Homo sapiens: one gene and its partner. The protein of the gene in region 1 purifies or fractionates together with the protein of each later gene. This does not show direct contact. Each region holds a gene or a part of one and is shown on either strand. Other genes may lie near its edges.

Region 1 (7,048 bases):
CCTGCGGCTGCAGGCAGGGGGCAGTACAGGACAGCAGGCAGCTGAGACCTCAAACCTAGGGGCTCTGAGGACCCCGCCCTCACCTCTCACCCTCAAATTCGAGGGAGCCGGGAACCTTGGGCAGAAGGCAAACTCAAGAAACGGACTCAGGAGGGAACCATTGGTGGGCTCCCGAAATGGACAGCAGTGAAAGCTGCCCAAAATGGGGGCAGCGAGGGCCACGGGCTGGTACCTACTCGTTTGGCTCAAACACTTTCTCCTCCTTGAACTTATCTCCCGCAAACTCCGTTCTCTTCCGGAGTCGCTGGGGCCTCCGGTAGGGCCCGGTCTGTCCCAGGACGCTGTCGTCAATTTCCTTCTTCACGGACTCCACCCCCTGCGAGGGAGGCACAGCGGGGCTGGGGTGGGTGTCTGGGTTCGGCCGCCCCAGGCTGCATGCCCTAGCCCAGGACTGGGCTCACCTGGGAGAGGGCTCTGAAGGCCGCTGTCCTGCCCAGCTTCTCCCCGCCTTTGGATACCGACTCGGCCGACTGCTTGGCCGTCTTGGCTGCTTCCTCCACGCCCTCCTTGATTTTCCGGCCGAGATCACTTTTACTGACTTCGTGAAGGCTCTACTGAGACAGACACAGAGAGGGGGCGTTGGCACCGGCCCTGGCGGCCGGGGGGCGGGGCAGGAGGAATGAATTCCTGCCGGAGAGAAGGGCGGATCTGGTTCCCCGAGGCCGGCAGAGGCCTTCTGTGCTCCTGTGGTACGCGGCACCCCCAGAGCCATGAGCACAACGGCACCCCCAGAGCCACGAGCACACCGCCACCCCCAGAGCCACGAGCACACCGGCACCCCCAGAGCCATGAGCACACCGGCACCCCCAGAGCCATGAGCACACCGCCACGGCTTCCGGGATGCTGGCCCTGGGCTCTGGGTGAGACGCTGGGTCTGCTGGCCCCTTTCCAAAATGGGCAGGAGTCCTCTGGAGACCCGGGAACTGCCTGGCAGCAAGGATTCCCAAGGAGGGGACCCCGGGGAAAGAACGGCGGTGAGGGCGCCCCATGCTGCGCAAAGCTGGACAGAACAGACAACCGAGGAGAGCCGCAGCACCCCAGGAATCCTGCCTCCCGCCTCTACCCTCGGGAGGGGGTGGAAGCGGCCCCTCTCCTCCTATTTTTAGGCAGGAAAAACATTTTCATGTTCTCCTCGAGTCCTGGCTAGCAGCACTTACTGCTGCCGACTCCCTGGGTCAACGGTCATGCAAGGTTGCCAGTCTGACCTCACCCTGCATGTGCCGGGAACTCCTGAAACCTTCCCGAGGGTGGCAGCACGCCCCATGCCACCCACTGCTGCCAAGCCACCCCCACCCAGGAGCCGACTCTTCCTCCAGCCTCCAGCGGCCAGGGGACTTTGATGGCCCCAGCGGCTCCAGGCGGGCGTGGAACTGTTACCTCCTTCACGGTGCCCGTCAGCTCCCCAAGCTTCTTCCGTAGCACCTCGCTCGTCCGCACGGTTTCTGACTCGATGGTTTTCTAGGTAAAGAGCGCTGTGTCCTTTTTTTTTTTTTTTTTTTTGAGACAATGTCTCCGTTGCCGAGGCTGGAGTACAGTGGCACGCTCTCGGCTCACTGCAACTTCCTCCTGCCAGATTCAAGCGATTTTCCTGCCCCAGCCTCCCGAGTAGCTGGGACTACAGGGCCCACCACCATGCCTGGCTAATTTTTGTATTTTCAGTAGAGACAGGGTTTTACCACGTTGGCCAGGCTGGTCTCAAACTTCTGACCTCAAGTGATCCACCCGCCTCGGCCTCCCAAAGTGCTGGGATTATAGGTGTGAGCCACTGTGCCTGGCCAACCGTTGTGTCTTTAAGTCTGTATGTTCTGACACGGCAGTGACATTTCTCTTACAGCCAAAGGTCCAAGAAGCATCTTCTCCGCAGCCCCTCCCTCCCCGCACCTGCCAGCATGTGCTGCCTCCAGGGCCCCCGGCTGCCCACATGGCTTGGATTGAGGGTCTCAGCAGCGGTGAGCTCCTTGCTCAGAAGGCCGGCAGACTCGGGTCCCCGCTTGGCAGCTACCTCCTGAGAACAGGAGGCCCAGCCTTCACCTTTCACCGGGTGGTAGGAGGTGGCCTTGCCTGTCATCACTGTGCCCCTCATCCAGCCTCCAGCCACCACAGCTTGGTCTTATGTCTCCCGCTCCATCCATCCCACTCCAAACTCAGCCTGCTATGTCTTCAGATGACCCCTGCATTAATGATAAAGAGGGGCTGGGCATGTGAGCTGTAGTCCCAGCTCTTTGGGAAGCTGAGATGGGAGGATCGCTTGAGCCCAGAGAGTTCGAGACCAGCACAGGCAACATGGCGAGACCCTGTCTCTAGAAATATAAAAAAATTAGCCAGGCGTGGTATCCCATGCCTTTAGTCACAGCTACTCAGGAGGCTGAGGTGGGAGAATCACCTGAACATGGGAAGGTCAAAACTGCAGTGAGCTGTGATCACACCACTGCACTCCAGCCAGGGTGACAGAGCAAGACCCTGTCTCAAAAAACCAAACTAGGCTGGGCACGGTGGCTCATGCCTGTAATCCCAGCACTCTGGGAGGCCAAGGCGGATGGATCACCTGAGGTCAGGAGTTCAACACCAGCCTGGCCAAAGTGATGAAACCCCGTCTCCACTAAAAATACAAAAATTAGCCTGGCGTGGTGGTGGGCGCCTATAATTCCAGCTATTTGGAAGGCTGAGGCAGGAGAATCGCTTGAACCCAGGGAGGCGGAGGTTGCAGTGAGCCGAGATCGCACCATTGCACTCCAGCCTGGCTGACAGAGCAAGACTCCATCTCAAAGGAGAAAAACAAAAAACGAACAAACAAAAAAACACAAATGAAACCAAACCAAACCAAAATGCAAGGGACCCGTGGCAGGTGCCTGCATCTCTGAGGCTCAGCTGCTCATTGGTAAAATGGGGACACTGTAACTGCCTCGCAGGGCCCTTACAAATAAAGGAATGCAGAGCCATTCCCAGAAGCCAGGGCTTGGCAGCTGCTCAAGAAGAGAAGTGACAATTAATAATGACAGGCTGGGAGCAGTGGCTCACACCTGTAATCCCAGCACTTTGGGAAGCTGAGACGGGCAGATCACTTGAGGCCAGGAGTTTGAGACCAGCCTGGCCAACATGGTGAAACCCCGTCTCTATAAAAAGATATATAGGGCTGGGCGCACTGGCTCACACCTGTAATCTCAGCACTTTGGAAGGCCAAGGCAGGTGGATCATTTGAGGTCAGGAGTTCAAGGCCAGCCTGGCCAACATGGTGAAACCCTGTCTTTACTAAAAATACAAAAATTAGCTGGGCAGTAGTGGTGTGTGTCTGTAATCCCAGCTACTCGGGAGGCTGAGGCAGGAGAATCGCTTGAGCCTAGGAGGCAGAGGTTGTGTTGAGCCAAAATCGTACCACTGCACTCCAGCCTGGGCAATGGAGTAAGACTCTGCTTCAAAAAACAACAACAACAACAACAACAAATCAGCTGGGTGTGGTGGCGGGCGCCTGTAATCCCAGCTATCCGGGAGGCTGAGGCAGGAGAATCAGGAGCTGGAGGTTGCAGTGAGCCAAGGTCACGCCACTGCACTCCAGCCTGGATGACAGAGCAAGACTCCATCTCATAAAATAAAATAAAATAAAATAAAATACCAGCACCATCACCCAGTTTCCACCAGGCTCCACTCAGAGGGCTACAGCTGGGAGCTCTCAGGAGCGCTGCATCCCATAGCTGGTGTGCATGCGTTGCCTGGGGGCCTGTGAAGATGCGGGCGCTGGCCTGGCAGTTTGGGAGGGTGTGAGCCTCTGCACTGCTCATCCACTCCCAGGAGGAGCCACTGCTGCTGGTCTGGGGACCACGCTTCAAGCTGCACAGAACGCTGCATGGTCTCATGGCAGAACCCAGAGGCCTGGAGACCCGCACCTGTCCCCTGGCTCCCTCTCATTAGTGCATCAGAGCAGTGACCTCACTTCCTCACGAGCCACCCTGCCCCCAACCGTCCAGCCCTGAGCTCCTCTGGCTGTCCCTGGCCTGGAGAAACCCTGGCCCTGGAAACAAACATGTCAACCAAGAAAGGTAAGAAGCAAAGGGGCCCAACGCGGTGGCTCACGCCTGTAATCCCAGCACTTTGGAAGGCTGAGGCGGGCGGATCACTTGAGGTCAGGAGTTCGAGACCAGCCTGGCCAACATGGTGAAACCTCTTCACTACTAAAAATACAAAAATTAGCTGGGCGTGGTGGTGCGCGCCTGTAAGCCCAGCTACTCAGGAGGCTGAGGCAGGGGAATCACTTGAACCTGGGAGGTGGAGGTTGCAGTGAGCCGAGATCGCACCACTACTCTCCAGCCTGGGTGAGGGAAAAAAAAGCAGCAAAGAAACTCACGTATTTCCTTCTGGCCTCCTGGAGCACGTCTGATTCTTCTAGCCTTCTGGCCTCGTCACGGAATTTTTTTATACTTTCTTTCATTTCTTTGTTTTTGGCTAATTCTTGTTTGACATTATCTAGCAAGCCGGACAGAAAGCCTTTTCTGTTTCCAGAAGAATATGATTTGGACTAGAAAGAATGTACAAGAAAAAAAATTTAAAGAACATAGTAGAACATAGAATGAAATGCCCCACAGAGGGACTCAGGGATTTTTTTAAATGTTCTCTTTTCGGTTGATATACATTTAATGATGATTAGCTATCTCTTTTATAATAATCATAAAAAACAAAGAAACAGCAGGTGATAAAAGTGTGGTATATCCAGACAACAGAATATTATTCAGTGCTGAAAAAAAAATGAGCTCTCAGCCACTTTAGGAGGCTGAGGAGGGAGGATTGCTTGAGGTCATGAGTTTTAAGACCAACCTGGGCAACACAGCACCCTATTTAAAAAACAGGCTGGGCGCGGTGGTTCACGCCTGTAATCCCAGTACTTTGGGAGGCTGAGGCGGGCAGATCACCTGAGGTCAGGAGTTCGAGACCAGCCTGGCCAAAATGGTGAAACCTCATCTCTACTAAAAATGCAAAAGTTAGCTGCGCATGGTGGTGTGTGCCTTTAGTCCCAGCTCCTCAGAAGGCTGAGGCACAAGAATTGCTTGAACCCAGGAGGAAGAGGCTGCAGTGAGCCAAGATTATGCCACAGCACTCCAGTCTGGGTGACAGAGCGAGACTCCATCTCAAATAAAATAAAATAAAATAATTTAAAAAACAAGCAAGAAATATGCTCTCAAGCTGTGAAAAGACACAGAGGAACCTTAAATGTATATTGCACTAAGTGAAAGAAGCCAATCTGAAAAGGCTACATACTGTCTGATTCCAACTATAGACCGTTCTGGAAAAGGCAAAACTAAGGGGACAGTAAAAGATCAGTGGTTGCCAGGGGTTTGGTAGGAAGAGGGTGAGATGAGTAGGGGGGAACACAGAAAAATGTTAGGGCAGTGAAACTACTCTTATGATACTGTAATCACAGAGAATGTACACCACCAAGAGGGAACCGGAAGGTAAACCATGCATTTATTAATAATAATGTATCAACATCCTGTCAATTGTGACAGATGCTCCACACTAATGCAGGACGTGAAGAATAGAAAACTGTGTGCCAGATGGGAGAGGAGGGGCATGGCAACTCTTTGGACATTCTGTTGGATTTTTCTGTAAACCTAAAACTGCTCAAAAGATAAAGCCTTGTGAAAGCAAAACAAGGCCGGGCGCAGTGGCTCCTGCCTGTAATCTCAGCACTTTGGGAGGCCAAGGTGGGTGGATCACTTGAGGTCAGGAGTTCCAGACCAGCCTGACCAACATAGTGAAACCCCCGTCTCTACTAAAAATACAAAAATTAGCTGGGCGTGGTGGTGGGTGCCTGTAATGCCAGCTACTCAGGAGGCTGAGGCAGGAGAATCACTTGAACCCAGGAGCCGGAGGTTGCAGTGAGCCAAGATTGTGCCACTGCACTCCAGCCTGGGTGATGGAATGAGACTCCATCTCAAAAAAAAAAAAAAAAAAGCAGGCTGGACACAGTGGCTCATATCTGTAATCCTAGCACTTTGGGAGACCGAGGTGGGCGGATCACTTGAGGCCAGGAGTCCGAGACAAGCCTGGCCAACATGGTGAAACCTTGTCTCTACTAAAAATACAAAAATTAGCCAGGTGTGGCGGCGCCTGCCTGTAGTCCCAGCTACTGAGGCAGAGGCAGGAGAACTGCTTGAACTCGGGAGGTGGAGGTTGCAGTGAGCGGTATCTCGCCCCTGCACTCCAGCCTGGGCGACAGAGTGAGACTCTGTTTCAAAAAAACAACAGAGAAACAGTTTAATGAATGATCATACAATAATCCAATCAGGCGGAAGGGGCCGCCTGTGGTCAACTTTTCCACAGCTGTGTTGGGTATACCAGCTCCAGGTGGGATCCCCCTCCCTGGCTCCTGTCAAGCTACAAGAGAAAGCTGCATCCAGCCTGGTGCTCAGGCCCCGTGGAGTCACACACCTGTGGTCCCAGCTACTCAGAAGGCTGAGGTGGGAGGATCGCTTAAGCCCAGGAGTTCAAGGCTGCAGTGAGCCGTGATAGTGCCACTGCACCCCAGCCTGGGCCACAGAGTGAGACCCTATCTTAAAAAAAAAAAAAAGCCCAGTGCTGCTCCCCAGGACAGGTGGCCAGGCCTCCTGTCAGCAGGCTGCAGTCCCATTCAGATGCCACCCTGGCCAGCCTTTCTCCAGGGGAAACCCAGGTTCTAAGTAAAATCATCCAGGACCACACAACCTTATCGCAGCCCTACCAGAGACTCTTGGGCTACAAACCATGGGAGTGAGTGTGTGGCGGGGGACTAGACAAGAAAGGGAAAGAGTCACAGGTCCTGTCCCACACCCACGATGGCCCCAGGACAGGACTGGAGAGGTAGGTAGCTGCCTCCAAGGAGGCAGCTGAGCTGAGGCTCTGGGCGCAGAGAGAGAGGGAGACAGAATGTACGCGCTGCCCGAATGTACAGGTCTGGGGAAGGGAGTCAGGTTTTGGGCTTCTGTCCTCACGATGCTGAGACACCAACAGAAGCACAGTT
Region 2 (7,020 bases), on another chromosome or scaffold:
TGTGAAAAGAGTTCTGAAATTTTTCTTCTATTTTTTTGTGGCTTTCCTTTTATTGAAATTTAGTGCAACTCATCCTTTTATAGATATCTCAAGAAACTGTTAAGCAACATGTATATGGGCAAAATGTATCACGTTATTTACCTCATAATAGAAAAACTAATACTTTTAGTAAACAATTTCCAAAGTGGATTTCTTATTGCTATATTTGGTGTCCCTATTACTTGTTTATGGTACAATTACAGTTGATATTCACCCATAAGAGGCAATGGAGGCAAAAAAATTACTCTATTGCTATGGATTAGTGTGTCTATGGACCTAGAGGTTATTTCTCCATAGCTAGTGTGATGCTGAATACATTACAGCACTTTGTGATTGCTAGGAAAAAGACTTCACTTATGAATCTAATAAACCAAAAATGTATAGTCCTAATATATTTCATGAACACCTTATATAAAACTCACAAATTAAGATAAAAGATTCATGCTGATAGGAGGACCAATCTAATTTGGATATATTAAAATAGATCTATTCTTCCAAAAACCTCATAGCCATTGTATCAAGTAATAAATAGAAAATTTATGAACTAATTAAATGCATGAAAATATCTACTGAGCTTTGATAAAGTCAAAAATGCAACTGTCAGCAAGACTACTAACAAATTTACTTTTGATGTTTTTATTGTTATCTTCAATATTAACCAACCCTTTAAAGAAGGAAGTAATGCCAGGTGTGATTTGCTCAGAATCAGTTTGAAACTTACTCTGGGTCCCATGAGACCAGGCTCCCCAGGGCGACCAGCATCTCCATTAGGTCCTCGGACTCCAGCAGGGCCACTTGCACCACGACTACCAGGAGGGCCCTATTCAAAAAAAAAAAAAAAACAGATAGAGGAGGAGGATGCTAAAGCTAATGACACACCCACCACCAGAAGCAGCAAGCCCCTTTCTAGGAAGTAAGTGATAGACAGCTTACCATGACGCCAGCTCTGCCATCAGCTCCAGGAAGACCACGAGAACCAGGACTACCCTGCAAGAAAGTACATGAAATAGAGAGAATTAAAGAAATCTCTTGGCTTTGATAAGGTAGAGTTTGTAAAAAATAGCATGATCTCCTTACAGGGGAGATACAGACACAAACCAAGCCAAAACACTTCACCCAACCCCTAGAGGAATTCATAGATGAGCATCCTGCAAAAGTAGGTCAACATTGTTTCCAGGCCAATTTTATAACATATTAAATTGAGAGTCACTGATTTAATAAGGCAGATGGAAAGCAGATGCTTTTTTTGCCTAAGAAAACACAGTCAGTAATTTTGACCAATTCCCAGTGAAGGGGTATCATAATCTGCCTCTGGTGTGTTAGGGTGTTGGGAGCATTTGAAACCTACTCTCAGCCCAGGAGGTCCTGGAGGGCCGGCAGATCCAGCTTCCCCATTAGGGCCTCTCTTTCCTTCTTCACCACTGGGACCAGGAGGACCTTGGGGCCCAGCAGAGCCCTGTTTAATGAAAAGAACAAAAGAAGAGGGAGTAAAAAAATAATTTTAATACTATGTCCAGCTGGAGAAACTGGAATGAGAAAAACAATTAACTTTATAAAAGTGTGATGATAGAGCTACTTACGGGCTCACCCTTGTTACCGCTCTCTCCTTTGGAGCCAGCTGGACCAGGCTCACCCTAGGGTTCAATACAGAACAGTGGTCAAAGGACAAACATTTGTTGAAACTCTCTTGCAGACAAATCTCTTAGAATATTTGTGGGTCAAGGTAAAGAGAAGCTCAAGTTCTCTAGGAAATGTACCCTGTTCATATTTAAATTGAGTACAGGGGAATGGTATTATTGGTCGAAGGGACAAAACTGATATTGTAGAACTTTGCCTCATTTACCTTGAGGTAATGATTTAAGATAACAGGAAGGGCATGTCTGTGTGCATATAGCAGACGGGAGTGTACATATATATATAAGAAATATAAACTAAAAATGCTAAGGAAGAGAAAAATAGGAATAATAAAACTACAAGTGGAAGTCTAGATAGTGATGAAATGATGGCAGAGGTGGTATTTCAGGATGATGAGAACCACAGTCATGACCACTTACAACAAGTCCTCTGGCACCAGTAGCACCGGCAGCACCAACAGGGCCAGGAATACCGCGGGGTCCAGGGAGGCCGGGAGCCCCAGCAACGCCGGGAAGGCCCTGTGAAGGAAAATGCAGTGTGGTCCATTAGGGAGGTGATGGGCTGTAGAGGCAGCACACATTAAATGCCTTTAAAATCATAGCAGCACATTTTAGCTACGCAGGTATACTCACAGCAGCACCCTTGGCACCAGTAAGGCCGTTTGCTCCAGGATTACCCTATGAGGAAAAGGAAAGGAGAAGGATATCAGTTAATTGGAATATTTCGGTTCTTCTTTGACCCCATCTTCATTCTTCTTCTTCCCCATACTCCACCTTTGTTTTCTTTTACTCAATAAAGTTTAAAGACAGTGGCTACTTACAGGAGGTCCAACGGGGCCGGAGAGGCCTGGAAGACCCACTTCACCACGGGGACCGGCGGGACCAGCAGGACCAGCGTTACCAACAGCTCCAATTTCACCCTAAAAGAGGAAATTAAACCAAGGAATTAACCAGCAAATAATGAAACAGCATATCTGTTTTTAAGATGCCAAGTTTTATGAAATGTCTTCATAAAACTTCAAAATTGCAATTATTTTTCTTATCCGTTTTATTACAAGATTTGAGTTTGGTTTCCTATTTTCCTTGCTTGATTCTGCCATCTTGGCTACTGTTACTACCTTCCCTCTCCTTCTGTCTCTCTGTGGTTGACTCTGGTTCTCAGTCAGTCCTAACTAACTAGTCCTAGAGACAATTTCCATGTTGTCATCTATATCGATGGGCACAGTGCACAGTGCAGAGAAATGATCTATTTCAAATGTAGAGTGAGAAAACTGGTCATTCTATGTCCATTTTGAAGGGAAGGAATAATTAAGGTAACTGTTTCGTAATTATCTCTTTATCTGCAAACACAGTTCCAATCTTTCACATCACAGTAAAAAGTTTATCAAAGTAGTGACAATGGTCACCAGTGTTTTTACCTTGGGGCCAGGGGCACCTGGGAAGCCTGGAGGGCCAGCAGACCCAATGGGACCCTGAAATCAAAGCAGAAGGTGGTAAGAAATTTCCTCCAAGTAAATTAAGAAAACAATAACAATGGCAGAAGATTGAAGTTGCTTACAGTGGCATGACACTGTTTATATTAGTAAAGAAAAAAACTGACAACCAGTCTGTTGTCGTTAGGATCTCATCAAAGGCAAGACATTCATGGTATCCAGGGTGGGGATATTTTGCTTTATACATCAATCAAAAGTTCAGGTACTTATAAATGGCTTACACTACTTATAAATGGAGCCTTCAAAAGACCTCACAGAACATTTGGTAAAGTGTCTGAAATGATGCTATTTCGTAAGAGATTAATGAAGAAGACAGCACCCACCCCACATTCTCAACTCCTTTCAAACTCCCCAGTGTCAAAACTTACAGCAGGACCCACGGGACCCACACTTCCATCACTGCCACGGGCACCCTAAGAAGAAAATAAAGGGAAGATCAGGTGGAAACTTAAATGACAGCCATTAGAAGATTTTTTAAAAGGATGAAACTGAACAAAAATGGAAGCACTTACAGCTGGGCCAGGGGCACCAACACGTCCTCTCTCACCAGGAAGCCCACGGGCTCCCTAGAAGCAGAAATATTTTCAATAAAATCCAGAATGCTAATTTAAAAAAAGTCACAGGCATCATTTGCTTTGTTCAGTTTCCAACCTGTACAAGAATACACTAAAAATAAATAAGTTGCCTTCTAATTCCAACTAAACAGTAGTGGATTTCAATTAAGTATCAGAAGGCTATTAGAAAAACATCAAAGAATACAATGCTGAAGGATACAGTGATTAGCAAAAACATTAAAGAAGTTCCATCTCATAAAGAGTGTACACATTTAAATTTACAATGAAGTAGTCAATACTTACTGTTTGACCTGGAGTTCCATTTTCACCAGGGGCACCAGGTTCACCCTACATGGAGAAGGATTGAGTTTTTGTTCATTAAATATAACAATTATTTTTCCTGATAGTGCAATTTTACTCTATTTTTTTTACTTTGAACCATTCATATACTTCATAATATTTCTTACACATATAGATTGTTTTTCAATTATGCCAGACACACAGATTTTAAAATGTGCTAACATGAGTTTTTATTCAGATAGTACCACATATCCAGGTTCTAAGGAGATGTGGTTATTTGAGTGTACCTCCTCCCCAATTTCTCCCTTAGATTCAGGATATCAATTATATACTAGAAACAATATCATAAAAAGAGATGGCAAAGGATAAATTTGCTTTCAATGTAACCATATTTATCCTTTTTAAAGTTATTTTGAACACTCAGTGTTATCACTTTCATAAAATGTGCATGAAAAATTGAAGCTTCATGGTATTTTTTAGAGCCATCATATTTATTTCCAATCTATATTCTTATCCTGAGTAAAAACCAGGGTAGTAGTAGTAGTAGTAGTGGGATTTAATACTATGGCACATGTAAAAGAACTTTTTTTAAAGATAATCTGATTTAGATATAGGGGAAATATGGTTTAAGAGACCTCATAAGGACCCTTAATTTCCAGGATTCTATGTGAAGTCTATTCTTTGGGAATAAGCATTGAAGTGGCAAGGGGGGATCATTTCTAGCCTATGACTTTCTAACCTCTAGATGTGTGACTTTGGGCAAGTCAATTGCTCTCACGAAGCCTCAGTTTCCCACCTCTGCAAAATGAGGGGGTCTCCAAAGCTCCTTGCAGCTCTAACATTTTATGATACAGTGATTAGTAGTCTGAGCTGTTATATCGGGCTCTTGGGAGAATGAGTTTGACCTTATCCATTTGTGTGGCAGCTGGAAAGTTAGAATAGATTCTCCATATTCATGTTCATTTCTGGTCCCGCTAGTATTCGTTACTCATTAATTTGTAATTACGTTGGTATTCACTTTAATATCACATTATCTCCTTAATAGGAAAGAGAACATTTTATAGTTGAAAACGCTGTCAGAGAAGAGCCTAGCCAAGAGATAACACACTTCTGAGACTTTAATTACCTAATTAAAATTTTTTTGAGTGTGCACAGATAAATCACAGGAAAGAGGTTGAAAAGTGTATAGCGACATGAATGTACCTATCTAATTAGTGTGTGGCAAAGGAGAATTTACAGTTTAAAATAATACAGAGTGTCGTAATCTCTGATTATATGTTTATTTACTTTTATTTTGGCTGCAGAGATACACTGGAATTATAGAGGGAGGAAAGGAAATGGAACAAGAAACTATTAATATTATTTTTATCTCAATTGTTTAATAGATATTGAATTTTAATAAATATTAATAATTGACCTTTTTTCACAGACTCTCATAGTCCCCATCCTTGAGGGATTTGAAGTACAGGAAAGAAAAAAAATAAAAATACTTTTTGTAATATGGGTAGTCTTCAGTATAATATACTTTTTTGGAGGTCATGGGGAATTTCAATCAAGTGCTTAAAAACAGTGCTTCTAATTTAATATTTACCTTCACACCAGGAGCACCGGGCTGTCCCTTCAATCCATCCAGACCATTGTGTCCCTGAAAGGAAAGCCTTATTATAAAATGCTGTTCCATGATAGTGTTTGGTCAAATAAAAATTGTATTGTATATCTTTGCCATTAATCTCTCTTGGGTAAGTCTTGTCTGCTGCAGTAGAAAGAAGTCCAGTGTTCCAGGTCCCAGCAAACTCAGTCTATTGCCCTAGATAGGTCACTTAACTTTCTTGCCATTGAGAGAGAAGGATGGAGGACTAGGTGTTCTCTCACATCTTTTCCATCCTTAATAATTTTATGATTTTCAGACGGTTGTAAATACTCAATAAGTAATACATGTTCTATATAATTTTCTCTGTAGTGAGCCTGTTTTTTGGTAGCTATGAACAGACTGAAAAAATTGCACCCCACTTTACTTTCAAGAAATCTGACTCTTTAACTCTTTCTTCCCTTTGGCAAACTCCAGGGATTTGAAAGTGAGTATATGTCACCCAAGATTTTAAACATACTTGAGTTTTTTCCAAAAATTAATAGGCATTTTCTCTCTTCTGAGTAAAGAATGTGCTCACCCTAATGCCTTTGAAGCCAGGAAGTCCAGGAGTTCCAGGGAAACCACGAGCACCCTTAGAAAGAAATACAGAAGATGGTGAATAATGTTTTACCATAAATAAAAAGACAGTGACTTCTTCCCTCCAAAGTATTTATTCTCATCAAAGTTCAAGCTTTGAACCAAAGTCTAGTATACCTCTAAGCACAGAGTGACAAATTAACTTGCTCTAATGTGAGTAACTAATAATACGGTATTTGTAGAAAACACAATTTAGTTGCTTATGGTATGCTTGCTGTCATTTATATTCCATTATTTGCATGAATAAAATGTATATGCATTTTTTTTTAACTAGGCTTTTTTCTTTATTAGATGCCTTCGATTCATGTTATGAGTTTGGGTGACATCTATGTTGTCATTTAGATTGATGCTAGTTTTAGCAACTATCTTATAGGCCTATGATGTTTGTGCTATCTACCAATGTAAAAAGTCTCACCTGTGGTCCAACAACTCCTCTCTCACCAGGTCGTCCGGGTTTTCCAGGGTGACCCTAAACATGAAAACATTGTAGAGTCAACTTCTTCTTGGTAAACTATCAGACAAAATGGGGGAATCTTGGTTTTTACAAAAGGGGAGAAAGTTATCACATAAAAATATGGATCCAGATATATATTTAATCTTTCCCTTAATACAAGTAGGTTAGTTAATATTTCATTAAAATAATATTTCCCATACATTAAGAGTTCTGTCAGGCATATTCAGCTTTTGGCAGAATACTTAATTTGAATCTAGAAAATCTTGTTGAGGCAAGAGTATTTAAATAGCATTTTGAAAGTGCTTAAGAGTAAATACTT

The links. Proteins that work in one complex are often made in the same cells at the same time.
Region 2: the proteins of TIMM44 (region 1) and COL1A2 purify together in Homo sapiens (affinity purification with mass spectrometry; 2 studies listed by BioGRID and IntAct, with this or other methods). This does not show direct contact.

The regions. Positions count from the first base shown.
Region 1 is NC_000019.10:7,933,628-7,940,675, forward strand, and holds part of TIMM44 (mitochondrial import inner membrane translocase subunit TIM44), read right to left. Parts: intron 4,571-7,048; coding exon 4,400-4,570; intron 1,519-4,399; coding exon 1,438-1,518; intron 612-1,437; coding exon 462-611; intron 377-461; coding exon 237-376; intron 1-236. UniProt on the Homo sapiens protein: Essential component of the PAM complex, a complex required for the translocation of transit peptide-containing proteins from the inner membrane into the mitochondrial matrix in an ATP-dependent manner.
Region 2 is NC_000007.14:94,404,895-94,411,914, reverse strand, and holds part of COL1A2 (collagen alpha-2(I) chain precursor), read right to left. Parts: intron 6,717-7,020; coding exon 6,663-6,716; intron 6,243-6,662; coding exon 6,189-6,242; intron 5,666-6,188; coding exon 5,612-5,665; intron 4,069-5,611; coding exon 4,024-4,068; intron 3,733-4,023; coding exon 3,679-3,732; intron 3,580-3,678; coding exon 3,535-3,579; intron 3,146-3,534; coding exon 3,092-3,145; intron 2,594-3,091; coding exon 2,495-2,593; intron 2,352-2,494; coding exon 2,307-2,351; intron 2,193-2,306; coding exon 2,094-2,192; intron 1,674-2,093; coding exon 1,620-1,673; intron 1,496-1,619; coding exon 1,388-1,495; intron 1,027-1,387; coding exon 973-1,026; intron 860-972; coding exon 761-859; intron 1-760. UniProt on the Homo sapiens protein: Type I collagen is a member of group I collagen (fibrillar forming collagen).